3 linked regions of the Homo sapiens genome follow. The protein of the gene in region 3 interacts with the protein of the main gene of each other region in a pairwise test. Each region holds a gene or a part of one and is shown on either strand. Other genes may lie near its edges.

The links. Proteins that work in one complex are often made in the same cells at the same time.
Region 1: the proteins of ZSCAN12 (region 3) and VLDLR interact in binary tests that used the Homo sapiens proteins (3 or more experiments, as listed by UniProt).
Region 2: the proteins of ZSCAN12 (region 3) and PGBD1 interact in binary tests that used the Homo sapiens proteins (3 or more experiments, as listed by UniProt).

Annotation. Positions count from the first base shown.
Region 1 is NC_000009.12:2,652,787-2,659,786, reverse strand, and holds part of VLDLR (very low-density lipoprotein receptor isoform a precursor), read right to left. Parts: coding exon 6,838-7,000; exon of another isoform or gene 6,777-6,837; intron 5,955-6,776; coding exon 5,919-5,954; 3' UTR 1-5,918. UniProt on the Homo sapiens protein: Multifunctional cell surface receptor that binds VLDL and transports it into cells by endocytosis and therefore plays an important role in energy metabolism.
Region 2 is NC_000006.12:28,276,630-28,284,571, reverse strand, and holds the start of PGBD1 (piggyBac transposable element-derived protein 1), read right to left. Parts: upstream 3,001-7,942; 5' UTR 2,654-3,000; intron 817-2,653; exon of another isoform or gene 797-816; 5' UTR 759-796; coding exon 363-758; intron 1-362. Other genes in the region: ZSCAN26 (zinc finger and SCAN domain-containing protein 26), read right to left, coding at 7,476-7,942.
Region 3 is NC_000006.12:28,389,332-28,397,025, reverse strand, and holds part of ZSCAN12 (zinc finger and SCAN domain-containing protein 12), read left to right. Parts: intron 1-3,945; coding exon of another isoform or gene 3,946-3,979; coding exon 3,980-4,124; intron 4,125-5,283; coding exon 5,284-6,572; 3' UTR 6,573-7,694. UniProt on the Homo sapiens protein: May be involved in transcriptional regulation.

The DNA.
Region 1 (7,000 bases), on a different chromosome or scaffold from region 3:
TAACTGAGAAATACCCAAGTCTGGTAGTTCTACCAATCTGGTATATTCCAGAATACTTAAGATCCAGTGCTGGAGTTATAGCATCATTGAGTTACAAGCCACAGTTCTTCCTGTCTTTTTGGCCATGTTTCTCCCTATAGGAGAGCCTTGAAACTTAAGATTTGTTGTGGTACAGTTTGTTTTCTCCCAATATCTTATACATAGGAATGAAGTTGCCTGCTTATAAATTCCTTTAGGGAATCTTTATCATTTTCTTTGCAATCCAACAATCTACTTCTACTTCACTTGGATGGCCAAGGAAAATAATTCTGGAATGTCTAGCGTCTTGAAGGTATAACACGTAACTGAGTTAATCTGTGCTGACCTGATGTAGTAGTGCTAGTAGTACACTTCCATTACACCACCATACTGGATGCCAGCCATAGCTGGCATCTGAGAAACTGTTGAAGGATCCTAACATCAGCAATGAGGAGGACTCAGCAAACATGCAATGCGACATCCAGCTCAATCTTTGTACAGTACTGCATCCCCTTCTAAGAGAAGACGGCAGTAAGCACATAGGATTTGGAACCATAGATTGTTTGTAGCCTCAGTTTTTACCTATGTAAAATGGAGATACCTATTAGGGTTGCTGTGAAGAGCAAGTAAAAGACTTGGGAGCACTTACTTAGTACAAAAGTAAGCATATGGTAAGAATTTAAAGGAGATTTTAAGTGCTTTGGCAGCCATCTAAAGACTATGCAGGCTCCCAAATATTTGTTTCCATGTCCTAGGAGGTAGTCAAAAGAACTGAGGCAGAAACATTCCATTTATGTTTCTAGGGTTTAAACCATGCAGTCTTTTAAGCCTTCTTAAGTATGCAAGATGCTATCACTCCTTAAATATCAGACTTAGATCTCTTCAGACAGGTGTAGTGGAGAACACTTCGGTCACCATCTAACACATTACATTCATCATAGATAAAGGTACCTGTGACTTTCACCGGTAAAGTCACTTACCGGTGCCTGTGTGTGACAGTAAATACAGCCCTAGCATTGATGTGATATTCAGTAGTGACATCTGCCCTGCACATATTAGATGCCAGACACTGTGCTGAGCTTTTTGTGTGCATCTCACTTAAATCTTACCTTGTCACAGTGAGACAGTCCCCATCGTCTCTACTTTACAGAGGGAGTTAGTAACTTGCCCAAGGTACCACACACAAGACACGGAAGTCTATGCTGTTAACTACATTGCCTGCTGCTTCTAAACAGAACCACCTTGTCACCCATCTGACTTTTTCCTTGAGCGCAGTGAAGAAAAAAGCCATTTTTGATATGCCATGAGGTAACCTGCGGAGCACAAACTCCCCACCCGCAGCTGGTCTCACTCCTGTCTCAGTGTTTTTGCATTGAGATTTTTACAGTGAGATTTACAGGAGAACACTGGGTCATGGTCCTACTTTGTTCTTTTTCTCATTAGCCAGGCTCAAAAACGTGAAACGGACTCAGGAGACATGATAGAGAGATGGAACACCACTGTTATCAGTTTGTTAGTAGCTTATTTATCTATGGATCCCTAAGTTTCATATCTAGAGCCTCACTGGTAAAATGCATTCAGCTTTCCTGTGTGAAGGTAGATGTGAAAGGGATATGCAAAGATGGCTGATAATCCTTCACATGCAACTGTTTCGGCTAAAAATCCTCCAGGCTGGATTAGAGAGAAATAAGTTCGAAAAACGCCATTGTTCCCTCTTCAGATTCATTCCCTCCATATTTGGAAATAAGTACCTTTGAAGATTTTTGTACTTTTATATATTTCTGAACTCTCATAGTTTAGGCCCATGATATGGCTGAAGCATGGATGTACAATTTTTAGTTTTCCCAAGAAAAATCATACTTGTTAGGATATTTACTCGAGTAGTTTTTTAGTATTACAATTCTAGAAGAGAAGTCATTATAAGCCCCTTCTGGCCTTAGAGACTATATAATACCAAAAATACCTAAAAACCTTTTCTTTAAGAGAGTGAAATCGCTTGATGTGCCCTCCCACTCCGGTTAGATGCTTAACAGACGACAGCAGACAATGCACCTCAACCAGGGCTAAGTGTGCACACTTGGCCAGCAGCCGCCAACAGAACGGGCAGCAGCAGCAGTTAGCACTGACGCAACTATCGCTGCTATTGCCACTACCATCTCCCCACTAACAGGGCTTGCAGAATATGTAATACCCAGGGGATTATATATATGTGGTTTTTAGGCACCGCCTCATCACCCACAATAAGGGAAGCTTCTTTCTACTCTTTAGCTAGTTGCTGCTCCTACTTGTTAGGAGTTTGATGTATCAGACCCTTTTGAGAAATGTCTATGTCACAACTACGTTCAGGATAAAACAATTATGAAACTGAAGGGCTCAGATTTGGGGATCAAGATTAGCAGGTTGTATTCATAGTACTTCAACTTAAATTAGCAAAAGTATATCTGCTTTTTGCAAGTTTTTGCCACCATTGAAAGCAAACAGTATAGCTTTCATTTGGATTCAAAATAATAAATTGTTTTACTTGGGTAAGATTTCACTAGTAAGAATTCTAGGAAATTATTCCAGTTAGATTACGTAATAGAGATAAGTGACCCCTAGAATCTTTAGGTTTGGGGTAAAGATTGTTAAAAGGTAGACTTTAAGTTGGTCTACCATTTCTACAGTGTTCTTAACTGAAGAGTTAGTCTTTTAATACCCTGTAGTTTGCTATTTAAAGCTTGGCTTCTCATTTTTGAGAAGGGCTACTTGACTTCCACAGATACAAGGAACAGAAGCAAATGCCAAAGTGAAAGCCTCAATTTTTTTTTTTTTTTTTTTTTTTTTTTTGCCTTGTATTCATCAAGAACTAAAGAGGCAGCGATACCTAGGCTTTAAAACACCTACTAGAATGTTTTAAGGGAGCTAGTTGAACAACTGGGACTATTTTTTTGCCAAATAGATTAGCTTGCAAAGGGCACTTAAAAATTTGGACAGAGGAACTTGGCTGGATTTCTTTACCAGAGGCCACAAATCTGTTTATTCATCTATCATCAATCTTTGTGGCAATTCCTAAAATTTCTGGAGGGTCCACTTTCACTTTGTGTGACAGGCTCATCTAACTCCAAATATTCTCCTTTAGTGTATGATAAGCTTCATATTTTACCTCTTAATTATCTTCTACATTGAACTCTAGAGACAGAGCAAACTTATCCTAACACATTTCACATAGAATTCAAGTTATTTTTTGGGTGATAAAGCCGAGGCCTGTTATCATTCATGCACTATTATTGCAAGCTGTATTGACTAGTAGTTTAGTCATATAACTATTTTTTTCTTTTATTTTTATAAATTTTTTTTTTGTAGAGACAGGGTCTCACCATGTTGCTCAGGCTGGTCTCGAACTCCTGGCCTCAAGTGATCCTCCTGCCTTGGCCTTCCAAAGTGCTGGGATTATAGGCGTGAGCCACCATGCCTGGCCCACCAATATATCTATTCTTATTTCAATAGGAATATCTAGTTACTTTGTTTCTACAAATGAGTTTGTACCTCGTAGGTACAATGAGTTGTACCTTGGCTTCTTACTGGGGAGGACGTGGTAAAAAAAAATGAGACGTTTTAGACTCTTTGAGGGTTGGAAATTTTACCCAGAACATGAAAGAACATACTAGGGACAGGAATTCAAAAGATGATGATAGAGAATAATACTTTATTTGCCAAAACAAACTTTGGGCCTTATAATTAATTAATACTGTATAATCCTTATAATGGGGAAAGCAATAGTATCAAACTTCAAGCTTCTAAAGGGAATTTGGTATTACTCCAGTTAAAAAAAAAAAAATCCATGTTTTTTGTACCACAGCAGGGTCAGAGCAGCAGCCAAACTCTGAAATGGCTTTCAGAGTTCATGATGAATGCTAACCTACTTACCAAACAGGCACTTCAGCTACTCACTGTCAGCAGGCCACATCCTGTTCAGTGTGATGACTAAATGTAGAGTGAGGAAAAGGTGGAGAGCAGACAGTTCTATATTCATGACTACAGCCTTTTCCTTCTACATGCTTGACCTCCAAACCTCCCATGAAAAAAAAGTCCAAGGCTATCTTTTCTTTTTCATTCAGTTGACCAAAATCACAAGGGGGCATCCCTTAAGACAACAGAACCAACTTCCCCTTCATCTAGTAGGATTAATGTCCTTGCTTAAGCCACAAACAAGATGTTAACTGCCTTATATTTCATATGCAAGTGAAATATGAGTCATCCACTGATTCACGTAGCAACGCAAAACATCTTCTCTTCATCCTCTTGGTACTGTGTTGGTCGGTCATTTAATTCCAGAGGAATTGCTGTACCTTCCACAGCCAACTCTCCACCTCACTTGTGACACACAGCATGCACCCGGTGCTTCAAGTCTTTTGTCTTTCCTTGCTTCCAGACATCCTGAGACTTTAGAGAAAGAAAGTAATGGCCAACCTGATGGAAAATTCACTAAACTCCCTGTACAATTTTTTCTTTGTCTCAAACTCCTCATCTGCTCTTCATACTGTAAGTTCCAGAAATTGTCCATAGTAAGAATCTGCCCCATCCCAGCCAGGATAAAAATTTAGGTGATATTGCAATTATATTCTTCATGAAGTCACAGTAAAACGGTGGTTTTTAAGCTTTAGTTTACATCAGTATCGCCTGAAGGGCTTATGAAAGCAGGTTTCAGCCCTCGCCCCCAGAGTTTCTGATTCAGTAGGTCTGGGATGGGGCTGGGAACTTGCATTTCTAATACATTCCCAGGTGATGCAGATGCTTCTGTTCTCAGGACCACACTGAGAAACCTGCCTTAGACTGTTCAAGAATGCCATTGCTTGCTATCCTCCCTGGCCATCTTCACAGTAAGACAGTCTAGACTTTCATAAGAAGAAAGCCCTTATCCATGCCTTAGAAGGCACTTGTCCTTGACCTATATAAATGACAGAACATGGAAAACAGAGACTTAACTATAAAGAAGCAGAATTCATAGAAATCTTAGCACGTGTTTCTCGATCAGGAAACAAGTTAATGGAAAAAAAAGAAACTCACTCCTCTAACCAAGAGGAATTCTAGGTACAGACTAAGCTAGCTTCTTTTACACAGTAAGAAATATTTCGGGAGCAAATGTTAAACAGTACTTCATTTTTTAACTGTGCTAGGGTGTAAGAGAAACCAGCCCAATTACAGGCTTAGTTATACAACATCAAGAACTACAGCTCACACATTTAGTTAGAACACTTGGTACTACTCAGGATAGGAGTTCATCCTAGAGGAACAGGCACAAACCATGGTTAAGCTGCTTGGTTTAATTTTTTAGCACTTGAAAAAAAATGTACAGTAGTTTGAACACTCAGTCTTTGCAAACCTCCATTGAGGTCAAAGATATCATTCATACGTACAAAATTAGTTTATAAATTTTTTTGGCAATTTCATCTTAGTAACCCGTTTTGTCCTATTGCCATTGTCCCAACCATTGAAAAAGTTTACAATAATTTACATAGAAATATTTTCAAAGTGCTTAAGAATAGTGATTGTTCTCTGGGATATTTACAGATGGCCTATACAATGTATGTACAGGTGGTATACACTATAGCACAAGTTTCACTGCTGGAATATGGCTTTCTAGGGAAAGTGCATATTTGGCCAGAGGTGGCAATACTGTCTAGAAATTCAAGGGTTACAGATACTCGGTAACCACATCCAAAGCTGAAGTAGAATGTGGACAAGAATATTTACAAAAGTAATATAAAAACGGTCAAGTACACAAGCTTGATCCACGCAAAGGTATCTTGATGTTCTTCCAGCCGAGAGGAAGAAAAAGAGACTTCAGCTGCTGGCTCGGTTACCATTCCGACGGGGGTATTATTTGTTTAGACCTCAAAGGTCAACATTTGTCACAGAAGTCAAGCTAGATCATCATCTGTGCTTACAACTGATATCTGTGGAAAAGAAGAAGTATAGAATGAGCTTGGTGATCACTCACTGATGGCAACTCTAGTCTTTAAAATGGACCTTGCTTTTGAGTTGGTCATTCAAACACTCAGAGTGCTTAGAAGAAAAGTCAGTCAGATACAAAAGAATACTGAGTTGTATCATTCATGCATTTAACTTGAATTCAACTATACCTGCTTGGTAGTGAGATAAGATAGTGTGACTAATTCTGTCTTTTCTACTTAATGATCATAAGTCTTGGGGAAAAATGTGAAAAGCCATGTGTGTGTCAAGAATTGACCACTGTTCCATGTTTCACCGGAGTTTGAGAGGGGAGTGATCAATACTTGTTTTGTTCAGCCTGTTTCCTACGTGAAGGCCAAATACTCCACTTGGGTTTCATCTGAAGAACAAGTGAGTGACTATTGCTGGAAGAAAAGCTAGCTATACTAAGGGCGGTGGGATACCTTTTTAAAGCAAAGCATATAATAATTTTGGCTAAGTGAATCTTACTCAATACACTGACTTTAAGCCAACTCCCCTATATATGATATGCTAATTTACTTTCAAATATCCAGTAGGCAATGGATTTAATAGTTCAGTAATGAGCTACTTGGTTCATGCTAGTATTTACATGTCATTTCTATAACCAAAAATATCTTAATATAGTGGTGACTTTAAGTTGACCCACTTGTCAGTTGGTGAGGGTTAGATGCTGATCAACTGAGTGACTTATGTTCTAACAGGCTATACTGTCTGTCTAATAGCCAGGTAGCAGATGAAGTGTTTGGTAACTCCATCATCCTAATGGCTCTCTCTCTCTCACCCAGGTCTCCTTTCTGAAAAGTCTCACTTCAAGCCATGGTGTATAAAGACACAAAGCTGACTTACTGCTGGGTACGTGTGTCCAACAGAAGCACTGTGTCTACCAATGTCTATGGAGAGGTCCTCTTCAGTGGTTTTCAAGTACACAGGATTGTCAAAGTTCATGCTTTTCATGTTCTTGTGTTGCCAATTCCGCCACATCAAGTAGCCACCTACTGCTGCCATCACT
Region 2 (7,942 bases), 110 kb from region 3:
ATCGTACCACTGCACTCCAGCCTGGTCAACAGTGAGGTAAAGGGATATAGTGTTTGCAACTGACTCTCAAATAGATTCAGGAAAAAAAAATACTGCATATGTGTATGTATGTGTGTGTATACATATACATATGCATCTTGGGGGGGGGGAATGCACTTCCTTGTACGAGTGTGTACACAACAATGGGACTTCATCAAACAAATGTTAACAACTGGCAAATTTGGATGAAGAGTTTTACGGGAGTTCTCTATTCTTCTAATACTTCTATAAATTAGGAGTTATTTCAAAATAAAACGTTAAAAATAAACCGATACATGTCCCCCTTTTCTTCTCCCACATCACCACACACATTCTCTTCCCACCTGTTGTCCTGTGTCTCCACTTCCTGTCTCTAGATTCTCCAGCACTGTCACTGCCTCCTCTCCACTCTCCAGAGGATATGTCTTCACACAGGGCTGGAGCTCCTTGGGCAGGATGGTCAGGAACTGCTCCAGCACCAGCAGTTCCATTATCTGTTCCTTGGTGTGCATCTCCGGTCTCAGCCATTGATGACAAAGTTCTCGGAGTTGGGCCAGAGCTTCCTGGGGTCCGTGAGCCTCCTGGTAGCAGAAGTGCCGAAAGCGCAGGCGGCAAATCTCCTGAGTGTGGGAGCTGCCCTCCTGTGAGTTGCACACCTGCTCCCAGGTGGGATCTTCCTCCTTCACTTTCACAAGGCCATCTTCATTTTCAGGAGCAGGGCCTGGCAAAGCTTCATACATGTTGAGCTTAGAGGCTAAAGCTTCACTTAGCTTGGGGTCTATATTCAGAAATAGAGATCTGAGGCATAAGAATTTATCAGCAACATGCAAATTATAAGAGCTTCAAAACTGTATGTAACCTACTTACATTTTTGTCCCCACTGTAGGTAATGCTCAAAAGCTGAGCCTGCTTGCTTCTATTATCAGTGAAATGAATCAGAAGTATATTTTGAACTAGTACTAAAGGGCCTGAGTCCAAAGGTAAGGGATGTAGGACATGAGGGAAGAAGTGTTAGCAATAAGAAAGCTCGAGTAGCTTGCACTTCAGCTGGGGAGAGGGGATAATTTACCCATTGAGGAGGCAGATGGCTGCCTTCATGGACAAATAATACAGTCTCAAAGGTCTTCTATATCTGTGTAACTCTCATTGAATATTCCACTTTAAATGTAGGTGTAACAGAATGTTTCCAAAGTCTCCCATTCTCAAATACCTTTTGTGATGAGATTTTGCCACTGTTGTCATTCAAGGGGTGGAGTCTCTTTTTCCTTCCCTTGAATCTGTTCTGGCCTATGACTTGCTTTGACCAGTGGAATACAGCAGAAATGACATTGTAAGAGAGAGTGCTGCTGTAGCTCTTGGCTCACTGCCATAAGACTGCCATGCTGTAAGGAAGCCCAAGCTAGCTATACAGAGGTCATGTGGATGAGAACCAAAATGCCCAAGTTAAAGCCCAGCCAGGCCTAGTGCTCAAATAATTCACCACCTGAATGCAGCTCTATTAGTAACTCCAGGTGAGACCAGTAGAACCGCCTAGTCAACCCGCATAATCCTGAGGAACAATAAGCTGAGCTTGTTTTCAGCCACTAAGTTTAGAGTTTTATTTTTGATGCAACAATACATAACTGAAAAACAGTAGACATGCATCAAGTTCTTTTATTCCCTCTTTTCATTTTTTCCTTTGTGATCTCCTTAGTCACACTTTCAATATATCTCTGTTCCAAGAAGACTCAAATCTTTGGCACCAGCTTGCTTTTTGCACTCCAAACCCACATCTTGAAATGCCAGCAGCTGTGGGCCTCTACTGCACTATAATTTCAACAGATCTCAAACTGAAATCAGAGTCCCTCAAAGCTGCGTTCACTCGGTATTTCTCCATTTCTACTGGCATCACCATCATCTTCCACGCATTCAGTCTTTTAAACAGCCTCTATACACAATCAGTGAGTCAATTCTTAAAAACGCCTCTTGCAGCCATTCTTTCCTTCTTATAATTTTACTATTATTTTCATTCACTGTTACAATAATGTTCTGTTACGGTATTCCTGCCCAACTCCCCGCTTCTATGGTCACTGGATTAATATTCCCTAAAGCACAGTTGTGACCATATTCAACATACCTCACACACACATAAACACACACAAAGTTTTCATTAAACTCGTTGAAGTAAATTCAAACTCCCCAGGATCTAATCTTTACTGGGTTTTGCTGATTTGTTTGTCACTCAATCAACATTTGTGGAGCATCTCATTATTTTCCAGGCATAAAGTTAACTCTGGAATAAAAGACTTGGTTCCTGCTTTCAAGAAAGCCATGGTCTTCCCAAATTTCTTATGTCACTGCCATGCTAAGTACTCAATTTTTTTCCACCCACTCTATACAGTCAGGACCGCCCTTCTAAGGGTAAATTCCCAAGGCCCAGCGTAAATGTTCTATTGTAAAACCTTCCCTGGCAACCCCTAACCCTAACATATAGACAGGAAAAGTAAGCCACACAGGTTGAGATGGGGTATTCCCATAGAAAACTGCACCCAACCCTCATCTCCATCTCGTATTACAGATCACCAACCCCATCCCCACCCGGGTTCTTGAGGACAGGAGTTTATCTCTGCATAGACTCTACATGCCCGGCACGTACCTGGTATTCAAGAAATACTGATGGGCTTCTTCACGAATGCACGTAAAGCACCTGAGATGCCAGCAGCCAGCACCCTCAGGCGCGCCCCTGAATGTATTTTTCTGAGATTACACCCAGCATCTAGCACCGCGCCAGGCACTGAATACCGGCGTGTCTAATTGTTGGTTAATGGACCAAAAGTTCAGGAACGCGCACAACAAAGACGTAGCTGACCTCGTGAAAGGCTCCCGAGGGAGCTCAGAGGCCCGGTGCTCCCCTGTCGGGAGCGCCGGTTTCCCCAGAGCCCGGGCCGCTGGGCTGGCGGGTCTGGCGGGCGCTGCCGGCGCCTCCAGCAGCTGGGCGGGTACAAAAGCTTCTCCCTGCGCCGCGCCCGCAGCGGAGTGGCGGAGTCTGGCGGGTTCCCTGCCTCTCTAGGAGCACGGCCGCTCGTCTCTCTGGTGAGCCGGGAGGACCCCCGCTGCCACCTCCTGCCCCGCCCAGGTCACTCTCCGCCGCCGGACCCCAGGCCCATTCGGACGGTGCAAGCACGCCCCAAATTTATGTACATCATTTCGATTGAAAACCAACACAGTGGTAAATGTCTGTCTTCGGGGTCATCACTGGCTGGTAGGAGAGACAGATCAATAAAAAGACCATTATAGTAAGCTGTACAAATTATTTTCTTTAAGTATACATAATATATGTACAATAAAAAAGTCAAGTTGCAAAAGGACCATAAAACGAAAAGTGTCCCCTCTTTAGAGTTAACCATTGTATTTTGTTCATATTTATCTAGGACACTACCTGCCACACAGTAGCACTTAATGAACATTTTGTTTAGTGAATAAGTATTTATACATTTTAAAACACTTATGGTATCATAATGTAATTTTGCACCTTAGCTCTTTTCGGTTAAGACAACTTGGAGATCTTCACAGATCAGCTTATTCTTTAACAGCTAAGTAATACTGTATGAGTGTTCCATAATTTACTTAACTATCCTATTGATGCATACTTAGGTTATATTTTTTCTTTAAAAGCAATGCTAGAGGGAACACCATTCAATACCTTTACATTCTTTTAAGAATATATTTCTAGGATAAATGCCACATATTAGAACTGTTCAGCCAAAGGACACGTGCATTTAAAATGCTGATATGCAAGTTCCCTATTTGATTTTTAAGGGCACTTCTGTTTAAGAGTAAAAGGAGACTTTAGTAGAAAAATTAGTAAAGGATATGAACATTACTACACACAAGATAAGTGACAAATTAACATGTGAAAAGATGTTCAATAGTAAAAATATAAAAAACTCTTTAAAAAACAGACCCATTATTTATTCATTTACCTACTGAGTTTTGGCAATTATGAATAAAGCCGCTATAAACATCTGTGTGCAAACTTCTGTGTAGACACTGGTTTTCAGCTCCTTTGGGTAAACACTAAGGAGGGCGATTGCTGTATCACATGGTAAGAGTATGTTTAATTTTGTACGAAACTACCTAACTGTCATCCAAAGTGGCTGTATCATTTTGCATTCCCACCAGCAATGAATGAGAGCTCCTGTTGTTCCACATCCATACCAGAATTTGATGTGTCAGTGTTCTGGATTTTGGTCATTCTAATAGATGTGTAGTGGCATCTCACAGTTGTTTTAATTTGCAATTTCCCTGATGGGATATGGTGTGGAGCATCTTTTCATATGCTTATTTTCCATCTGTATATCTTCTTTAATGAGGTGTCTGTCAAGGTCTTTGGCTCATGTTTGAATCGGGTTGTTTCCTTATTTCTGAGTTTTAAGAGTTCTTTCTGTATTTTGGATAACAGTCCTTTAACAGATATTTCTTTTGCTGTGGTATATGCAGACAATGGAATATTATTCAGTGCTAAAAAGAAATAAGCTGGCCAGACACGGTGGCTCAAGCCTGTGATCCCAGCACTTTGGGAGGCTGAGGCAGGTGGATCACTTTGAGCTCAGGAGCTGGAGACTAGCCTGGGCAACACAGTGAAACCCCATCTCTACTAAAAATACAAAAAATTAGCCGGCCGTGGTGGTGTGCGCCTGTGGTCCCAGCTACTCAGAAGGCTGAGGCTGGAGAATTGCTTAAACCCAGGAAGCAAAGGTTGTAGTGAGCCAAGATCGTACCACAGCACTCCAGCCTGGCCAACAGAGTGAGACCTTATGTCAAAAAAAAAAAAGAAAAAAAAAAGAAATGAGCTATCAAGGCATGAAAAGATATTGAGAAAATTTAAAAGCATATTACAAAGTGAAAGAATCCTGTCTGAAAAGCTACATACTGTATGATTTCAACTACAAGTTGAGTATCCCTTATCTGAAATGCTTGGGGCCAGAAGTGTTTCCAATTTCGGATTTTGGAATATATACATACATTATGAAATATCTTAGGGATGAGGCCCAAGTCTAAACATGAAATTCATTTGTTTCATATATACCTTACTCACATAGAGCTAATTTTATACAGTTTAAATACTTTCGTGCATGAAACATAGTCTTTTTTTTTGAGATTGAGTCTTGCTCTGTTGCCCAGACTGGAGTGCAGTGGCACAATGTTGGCTCACCACAACCTCCGCCTCCTGGGTTCAAGCGATTCTCGTGCCTCAGCCTCCCAAGTAGCTGGAACTACAGGTGCATGCTACCACACCCGGCTAATTTTTATATTTTTAGCAAAGACGGGGTTTCGCCATGTTGGCCAGGCTGGTCTCAAACGCCTGACCTCAGGTGATCCACCCACCTTGGCCTCCCAAAGTGCTGGGATTACAGGCTTGAGCCACTGCACCCAGCCGAAACAAAGTATTGACTGGATTTTGTCTATGACCTGTCACGAGGTCAGGTATGAAATTTTTCACTTGTAGCATCATGTTGGTGCTGAAGTTTCACATTTTAATGCATTTTGGATTTTGGGTTTTCAGATTAGCTGTACTCAACCTGTATACATGACATCCTGGAAAAGGCAAAACTATAAAGACTGTAGAAAGGTCAGTGGTTGCTAGGGGCTGGAAAAAGGGAGGGATGAATAATAGGTAAGGCACAGAGGATTTTTAGGGCAGTGAAACTATAATGGTGGACACGATATTATGTATTTGTCCAGACCCATAAAATGAACAATACCAAGAGTGAACCCTAATGTAAACTATGGTCTTTGGGTGATAATATGTCAATGTAGGTTCATCAATTGTAACAAATGTCACCCTGGGAGGGGATGTTGATAATAGGGGAGGCTATACATGAATGGGAGCAGTGGGTATATGAGAAATCTTTGTATCTTCCTCTCAATTTTGCTGAGAACTTAAAACTGCTCTAAAAAATGGTTTATTAAAAAAAGCAAACCATTTTGTACACATCAGATTGTCAAATATTCAAAAGAATAATTCCCAGTTTACGTGGGTATAGAAAATTGGGCATTATCATAGGCTGCTAACAGGGTGTACAAATTAGTGTAACTTTTCTGGAGGGCATTCTGGAAAATGCATCAAAAGCCTTAGAAAATATGCCTACCTTCTGCCTCATTGATTCTCATTATGGGAACTGAACAAAGAAAAAAATTCTGTAAGTAGGCAAAGTTGTATATACAAGGATGTTCACTGAAAAATTGTTTATGGTGATCAAACTGTAAATGACGTAAATGATGAACAATGGGGACATATACCATAGAATACTGCACAGCTTATATGGAAAATTATCTTCCACAAACACTTTAAATAAATCTGCAGGGATTTGTTTGAAACCTTTATTAGAAGGAAACAGTATTCTATGGACTCCCAAGACCAGGATATATATGGATTGCAGAGGCTGAGGGCTGAAGTTGTCACTCTGGTGATATGTTTTGGAGTGGACGCCCCTAATTTTAATATTCTTCATCTGTGACATTCTGCTATTCACAGTATAAAGATCATGATCTCCTCTCCAAGCTGACTTTATTGTTTAACTTCCGAAGTATTCCAGAACAAGCAACATTTCAAAATTGCATCATCAGTATTAAAGGGAAAAAGTCCAATTTCTTTCATCAGACATTTACTGAATAGTGTCTATGCAGCAGCCACTATACTGGCACTGGAGTTATCAAGTCAGACAGTTGCTATTCAGATTAATTCAGCAAGGTTCATTCAAATTACTCATGAAATCTCTTTCAAAGTCTAAGTAAAACGTTAATTTATAACTTGAATCTTGACATAATGTGGTGGGGAATGGGGATGGGAAATGGTAAAATTACATGAAGCTAACCCTGAAGGCAAGTTCTGAAGTTCACCAGCGAAAATTATCTTTGCTTTTGAAAATGCTTCCACTGGGGAAGGAAGGGGTAAGGCCAGTGGGAGGAATGAGGTGAAGCCACTGGGGGAAAATGTTCACCATTAACCTGTACTTTAAAGACACCTTTGAGAGTAGTATACTTCCAAACATCATCAGTTTTATTTCATAGGAGAAAGCTGCTATAGCATATCCAAAAATATCAATCTTCCCTTGTTCTGCTTAAGCCTGCAAATCTGTGGGCACTTGATTCACTGCTGACTTCAAAACTCTTACTCAGTCATGAAGCTCTCTATTGCTTAGAGTATATAATCATGCAGTTATGTTACATGCTCTGAGATGTCCTGCAGTGAAGAATGCTGTTTAACTTTGATCCTAGCATATCATCTACAGTGAAATTATTGTGGTCCAAAGCTGACTTCAAGGAAAGCAAAGGAGAGAGAATAGAGGCAGGGAGCCTCCAACTCAGCCCCCAAGAATTTTCTGATGCCACAGTGGGCTACGGTGACTTTTCCTAAAGTGCTGTTTGCTAGTCAATGTGCCTTCTCTGATGTTCTACAAGGAGAGAACACCTCATCAAGCCAGTTTGTCTTTGTGGTGATATCTCTGATGTTGAAAAAGACCTGACCTTTGCCTGAAGGCTTCTCCACATTCACTACACTGATAGGGTTTTTCTTCATTGTGGATTCTTACATGCTGAGCAAGGTGTGAGTTTAGTCGGAAGGCTTTCTGGCATATGTTACACTTGAAAGGTTTTTCTCCAGTATGAATTCTGTGGTGTCGAATAAGGTCTGAGGTCAAACTGAAAGCTTTTCCACACTCGTTACATTGATGGCTTTTGGAGTGACTATGGATTCTCTGATGGTGGGTGAGGAGTAAGGCCTGACTAAAGGTTTTTCCACACTCCTTGCACTCACAGGGCTCCTCCTGACTGTGAATTCTCTGATGTCGATTAAGGTGAGAGCTGCGCCTAAAATTTTTTCCACAATGGATACATAGATAAGGTTTCTCTCCAGTATGAATTCTGAGATGTTCCAAAAGGC
Region 3 (7,694 bases):
TAAAGAGTTTGAAACTTAGGGAAATAATGAAACAGAAGTATAATCTAGCACTGTGATACAAAATGCAATAGAGAGGGTAGGAACATGTGGCAAAAATATCTAAGTTTGAAATAGGATCATGAGGCCAGGCACGGTGACTCATGCCTGTAATCCTAGCGCTTGGGAGGCCAAGGGAGGTGGATCACCTGAGGTCAGGAGTTCAACGCCAGCCTGGGCAACATGGTGAAACCCCGTCTCTACTAAAAATACAAAAGTCAGCCGGGTGTGGCAGGACATGCCTGTAATCCCAGGTACTTGGTAGGCTGAAGCAGGAGAATCACTTGAACCTAGGAGGCAGAGGTTGCAGTGAGCCGAGATTGTGCCACTGTACCCCAGCCTGGGCAACAGAGTGAGACTCCGTTTAAAAAACAAAACAAACAAACAAACAGAAAAAAGAAATAGGATCGTGAAAGTGTGATTACCAAGGATGAGGCATGTCTTAGGTAAGAACTGTTTGGAAGTGATGACAGATTAGCTCTATTAAATAAAGAAGGAAGAACCAATGGAGAACTCTTTACAGAGCAATGTATTCTAAGCTAAACACTAGGGATTTTAAGCTTGAAAGACTAGTATAATGGAGACACTCCTAACAAAGTTAAAGACTGCAGGAAACAATTAAGCACATATTTACCGAATGTCTGTTTGGACTAGGTACTGTTTTAGGCACTGTGAATGCAACAGCGAACAAAACACAGGGGTTGCTGCTCTCATGTAGGTTCTGGTCCACTGAGACAGATAGTAAATTAAAAATCAACAAACCAGCCTGGGCAACATAGTGAGACCCCCATCTCTATAAAAAATACAAAAATTAGCCAGGCAGGTGTGTGTAGTCCTAGCTACTTGAGAGGCTAAAGTGGGAGGATTGCTTGAGCCCAGGAGATCGAGGCTGCAGTGAACCACGATCATACCACTGCACTCCAGCCTGGGCGACACAGTGAGACCCTATCTCCAAAAAAAAAAAAAAAAATCAACAAACACCTACAAGATGTAGGTGGTAATAAATTCTGTTCAAACAACAACAACAATAAAAGCAGAGAAAAGGAATAGTGAAATAAGTGGGGATTGTGCTGTTTTCTGTAGACTTGTCAGAGAAGGTTTTTCAGATAGGTGACATTTACAGGAGAAATCTGAATGAAAAGAGCAAGCCATAAGCTATCAGGGATAACAGCATTCAGGCAGAGGGTCTTAAAGTGAGAATGTACTTATCATGGTGGAGATGTGGTTGTCAAGGAGGAGATGAAATAAAATGCTTATAAGATTATATTATGTCAGAACTTGTAGGCCATTATAAGAATTTCGAATTGTATTCTGAGATGGAAAGTCATTGGAGAATTTTGAACAGAAGCGAGATATAATCTGACTTGAATTTTAAAATAGTCACTCTGGCTACTGTGAGAAAGTTCCACAATGGGGCTGGGGTAGCCATAGGAGTAAAAGGTAGAGGCAACGAAACCATTTTAGGAGCAATAATAATAAGCAATAATCCAGGCAAGAGATATTGGTGACTTGGACTAGAATAGTAGCAGTGGGAGTGGTAAAATGTGATTGGATTCTGGATATATTTTGGAGCTAGAGCTTGACAGGGTTTGTTTTTATATAGAATGTGGAATATGAGAGAAAGTAAGTTAAGGATTATGCCGAAGTATTTGGTCTGAACATCAGATAGAGTGGATTTGTCATTCATAGAGATGGTAAAGACTGGGAGAGAAGTGGGTTTGGGGTGGAAAGACAGGAATCAAAACTTAGGGTTTGGGCCAGGCACGGTGGCTCAAGCCTGCAATCCTAGCACTTTGGGAGGCCAATGTGGGCAGATCACCTGAGGTCAGGAGTTCAAGACCAGCCTGGCCAACATGATGAAAGCCTGTCTCTACTAAAAATACAAAAATTAGCTGGGTGTGGTGGCAGGCACCTATAATCCCAGCTACTCAGGAGGCTGAGGCAGGAGAATCGCTTGAACCCAGGAGTCGGAAGTTGCAGTGAACCAAGATCTTGCCACTGCACTCCAGCCTGGACGACAGAGTGAGACTCTGCCTCAAAAAAACAAAAAAAACAGGGTTTGGACATGTTAATTTTGAGATTCCTATTAGAATCCAAGCAGAAAAGTTGAGCAAACAACTAGATATAATAAACTGGAATTCAGTGGAAGGGTCTGTGCTAGAACTACAGAATTGGGGCTTTTCAGAATACGCATAGTATTTAAAGCCACGAGATAGGATGAGATCATGAAGGGAGTAATGAGCAGTAGAAACAGAGTAGCTAGGGAGGTACAAAGAATGGGATTCTTAGATGCAGACAAAAGTAATTTGGTTTTAAATGTGCTGAATTTGTATTGCCAACCAGTTCTTTCTCTGAAAGCACTGCAGGGGCATATAATGGAGTTTACAGCTTGATTTCTGAGGCCTGACCAGAGATCCCAGAATAGAAGGCACAGCTCGCAGTACTGGCCTTTTCCCCCGGCTTTCTTTTTTCAAAATATGAGATATCAAAACACCGTTTTCTATACATCTGAGATAGCATTTTGCTGACTCTCGCTTTTATTCTGAAGACTGAGGCTACAAAATGAAAATGTATCAGGGAAATAGAGGCAGTATATGGTGATTTCTTAGTTATAAAATTTAACCTTTGAAGAGAATGGGGGAGTAATTTGAGAACCTGTTGTATGCCAATCCCTGTGCAAGGTGGTTTATACAAATGTTATTTATAATCTCAGAGAGAGTAAGTAACTAGCCCAAGGTCACAGAGCTACTAGACTAAGAGAGAGAGTAAGTAATCCATGTGATTCCAAATCCCTGCTTTTTACAATACCTTGCTGAAGAAACCTGTTATTTTTAAATGCAAGAGGAAATAAGCCCATGGAAGAATGGGAGCCACCCAGTGGCTGAAATTGAATAAATGAGTTAACTGAGGGAGCAAGGGTCAGAGAGAAGCCAAAAGTGATGGGATTGAAGGCAAAAGTAGAGACGTAAGCCTTGAAAAAGAGAAGACATCATCCTAAGATAGAAGAAATGGAGAGGAGTATGAGGGTGGAGATAGATAAAATGAAGAGTAGATGATTTTTGAGATGATTGTGATCTTGGATAAATAGAAAATAAGATAATCTTCCCAGAGAGAAGTGGGACGGGCACCTCAGAAGAGCAGAGACTATTGGGAACAGCTTAGGGAATGAATATGGAAGAGATTTCTCTCCTTCCCTTCTTTTCCCTTTCTTTCTCCTCATTTGTTCCCTTCAACCTTTTTTTTTTTTTTTTTTGGAGCTACAGTGTCTCTGTCACCCAGGCTGGAGTTCAGTAGTGTAATCATAGTTCACTATAACCTTGAACTGGGCTCAAGCAGTCCTCCTGCCTTAGTCCCCTGAGTAGTTAGGACTACAGATGTGCACCACCATGCCCAGATCATTTTTAATTTTTTTGGAGAGATGGGGTCTTGCTATATTGCCTAGGCTGGTCTCAAACTCCTGGCCTCAAGCAATCCTCCCACCATGGCATCCCAAGGGTGCCTTTTTTTTTTTTTTTTTATCATTTCTCTACATTATTTACCTTTACATATCCCCTTTCCTTTTCCTCTTTCTCTCTTAATGTTTTATTTTACCCTAAGTTCTATCTTATTTCCTCCTTTCTGCCTCTTTTCACCTTTTTCTTCTCTCCTTTGTTTTGTCTTTCTCCCTTTCCTTTCTCCACTTCTTTAAGCATAAGATAAAGAGGTAACAGTGGCACAACCAACATACTTTAGCGGTAACAACAGGAGAAATTACATCTGGGTGGAGAAGGGAAGATTCCCCAGAGGAGGCGACATTTATATTGGCCTTGAAGAATGGGTAGGGTTATGGCAGGCTTATATCTGGGAAAAAGGTCATTTCAGGGTTCAGCCACTGCCACAAATAGTATACTTTTTGTTTTCTGTTATCAGAGTGAGTCTGTCAGCTACATCTCATTTTCCTCAGGTCTCAGTCCACACTGGGGAACAGGAAATGTTCTTGCAGGAGACGGTACGTCTACGAAAAGAAGGAGAACCCAGTATGTCCCTCCAGTCCATGAAAGCCCAGCCAAAGTATGAATCTCCAGAACTTGAATCCCAACAGGAGCAAGGTAAAGAAGAAAGACCCATCTTGGGAGGAAGGGGAAGATGGGTAACATAGGACATTGGGGCTTTTTTGTACTTGCTACTGTTTCTGATCATTAAAGTCAAAAAGGCCGTCTCAGAATCTGATGGCTCATATATAGACTCTCAGACAGCCTAGTTTGTCACTCTTCAACCCTTACTTTTTTGTATATTCATATTCTTCTAAATTCTGGCTTTACCACTTAATTTAGTCCTTCTGATATTTATCTCTCTTTATACTGACCTCCTTGCTATTTTTAGCCTTTATCCTATCAGACAATACCTCTATCTTCCACTTGCACTATATCCTTTCTGCTTCACTAAATAAGCCTTTGCTCCATTATGTCTGCAACTAACTTTCAGATGGTTCAAGAAAAAAAAAATTTGTATACTTACAAAGAAAAGGAGTAACAGGCTGGGTGCGGTGGCTCACGCCTATAATCCCAACACTTTGGGAGGCCAAGGTGGGTGGATCACGAGGTCAGGAGTTCGAGACCAGCCTGACCAACATGGTGAAACCCCGTGTCTACTAAAAATACAAAAATTAGCTGGGCATGGTGGCGCGTGCCTGTAATCCCAGCTACTCAGGAGGCTGAGGCAGGAGAATCGCTTGAACCTAGGAGGCGGAGGTTGCAGTGAGCTGACATCACCCCACTGCACTCCAGCCTGAGCAACAGAGCAAGACTGTCTCAAAAAAAAAAAAAAGAAAAAGAAAAAATAATAAAACAAATGTTGCAAAATATTAAAAGTTGGTGAATGTGTGAAAGATCCGCTACCTTATTTCTACTTTCTCTGCATCCTTTTCATTTTCATTTAATTTTTTAAGTAGGTAAAAATGTACATGGCTCAAAAACAAAAATTTTTTAAGTTATTTAATGAAAAGTTTCTATTCTACTCGATTTTCCCAGCCACCTAGTCTCTTCCTCCTACTCTGAAATAGGTTGTAACTGTTACTAATTTTTCGTGTGTCCTTCCAGATATTTTTTTGATGCATATGTTTTCCATATTGAAACAAATATATTTTGCTCTCTTTATCACTAAGATGGTAGACTCTTGCATTTTTTATTTCTAAACAGCTGCTTAATATTAAAATGTATGGATACATTTTAAAGGTAGAAAGAGGTAACATTTATGATCCCTTCTTAGTTTTAGATGTTGAGACTGGAAATGAGTATGGGAATTTAAAGCAAGAAGTTTCTGAAGAAATGGAACCACATGGGAAGACATCCAGTAAATTTGAAAATGATATGTCCAAGTCTGCTAGGTGTGGAGAAACTCGTGAACCTGAAGAAATAACAGAAGAGCCCTCTGCTTGCTCCAGAGAAGATAAACAACCTACCTGTGATGAAAATGGAGTAAGCCTGACTGAGAACTCTGACCATACTGAACATCAGAGAATCTGTCCAGGAGAAGAATCTTACGGATGTGATGACTGTGGAAAAGCTTTTAGTCAGCACTCACACCTCATAGAACATCAGAGGATCCATACTGGAGATAGACCCTACAAATGCGAAGAATGTGGAAAAGCTTTCCGTGGGAGAACTGTGCTTATTCGACACAAAATAATACACACTGGAGAGAAACCGTATAAGTGTAATGAATGTGGCAAAGCCTTTGGCCGGTGGTCAGCTCTTAACCAACATCAGAGACTTCACACAGGAGAAAAACACTATCACTGTAATGACTGTGGCAAAGCCTTTAGTCAGAAAGCAGGCCTCTTTCACCATATCAAGATCCACACAAGAGACAAACCTTATCAGTGCACTCAGTGTAATAAAAGTTTTAGTCGGCGTTCCATACTTACTCAGCATCAAGGAGTTCATACCGGCGCCAAGCCGTATGAGTGCAACGAGTGTGGAAAAGCCTTTGTTTATAACTCATCCCTTGTTTCCCATCAGGAAATCCACCACAAAGAAAAATGCTATCAGTGTAAGGAATGTGGGAAATCCTTCAGTCAGAGTGGCCTTATTCAGCATCAGAGAATTCACACTGGGGAAAAACCCTACAAATGTGACGTATGTGAAAAAGCCTTTATTCAAAGGACAAGTCTTACAGAACATCAGCGAATTCACACTGGAGAAAGACCCTATAAATGTGATAAGTGTGGGAAGGCGTTTACTCAAAGATCAGTCCTCACGGAACATCAGAGAATCCACACTGGAGAGAGGCCCTACAAGTGTGATGAGTGTGGGAATGCCTTCCGAGGAATCACCAGCCTCATTCAGCATCAGAGAATCCACACTGGGGAGAAGCCCTACCAATGTGATGAGTGTGGAAAAGCCTTCAGACAGAGGTCAGATCTTAGTAAACACCAGAGAATCCATAATAGACGTGGTACCTATGTATGTAAAGAGTGTGGGAAATCATTCAGGCAGAACTCAGCTCTTACTCAACATCAGACTATCCACAAAGGAGAAAAATCTGTTTCTGTGTGATGACTACAGGGAAGTTATCTCACAGAGTTCAGGCCGGTGAGAAATACTATTTAGCTTTACAATTATTGGGGCAAAACTTCAGTCACCATTGTTATAAGGAAACCTCAGATATTTAATAAGAATTCACTGTGTGCTGCCCATTGTACTACGTGCTGTGGAGAACAAGAAGATAACCCCAAACTCTTTTCTCAGAGAGTTTGTAGCCTAGTTTGGGATAGATAAGATCCACATATTTAGTCATATAAGACTACAGGAGAGTAGAATTGATGCACCAGATGGTGTCGAATGAAAGTGGTACTTTGTAACAGACTATAAGTGCTGTAAATTCTAAAGGACAGGTTACTTTTGCCTGGAGTGGTCAAGAAAGATTTTATTTAAAATAAGGATTTGACGGGCAGACTTAGCAGTCAAAAGGGAGAAAGCGGGTAAAACAAATGTAAGCCATCATAAGAGTGCATGTGGTTTGGAAGCATCAGGGAAAAGACTAGCCAACCTGAAGTAAAAGGTTCGTGCAAATTGGGCAATCAATAGCATTAAGTTGGAAACAGCTTGGGGACAGACACATAAGAGGGCCAGAGTGTGAATAATTTCATCTAATACTTTATAGCACTTGGACATTTACAGAGCACTTTTCTCAATTCCTAAAATACCTTGGTAAATCAAAAGCATTCTCCATTTTAAAAATGAGAATACTCTTGCCTATGGAGATGGCAACATAGCTATAATCCCACACAAAGAAAAAGACCAGTAACCTAAGTGCAGGTCTTTTGACTTCTAGTCCTGGCCATTACTCTAGTGATCCTCCAACTTTGATGAACATCAAAATCATGTTTGGAGCTTGTTTAACATCCCTGAATCCCACTCACATTCTGCTTCATTAGGCCTAGGATGGGAGTTGAGAATCTTCATTTTTATAGCTCCACAGTTACTTAATATACTTTAAAATTTGAGAAGCGTTGAGTTGAATGACAGCTGACTTCATGGCTGTCTGCGAAGTGGGGAAGCCTGAACACAGTCCTATAAACTAAAGGCCACTGCAGACTTTTAGCACAAGGAGATCCTTACAGGGAACATGTGCCATCAGCTCTTTGGAGTGAACAAGGAATTAGACCCCCATCATGC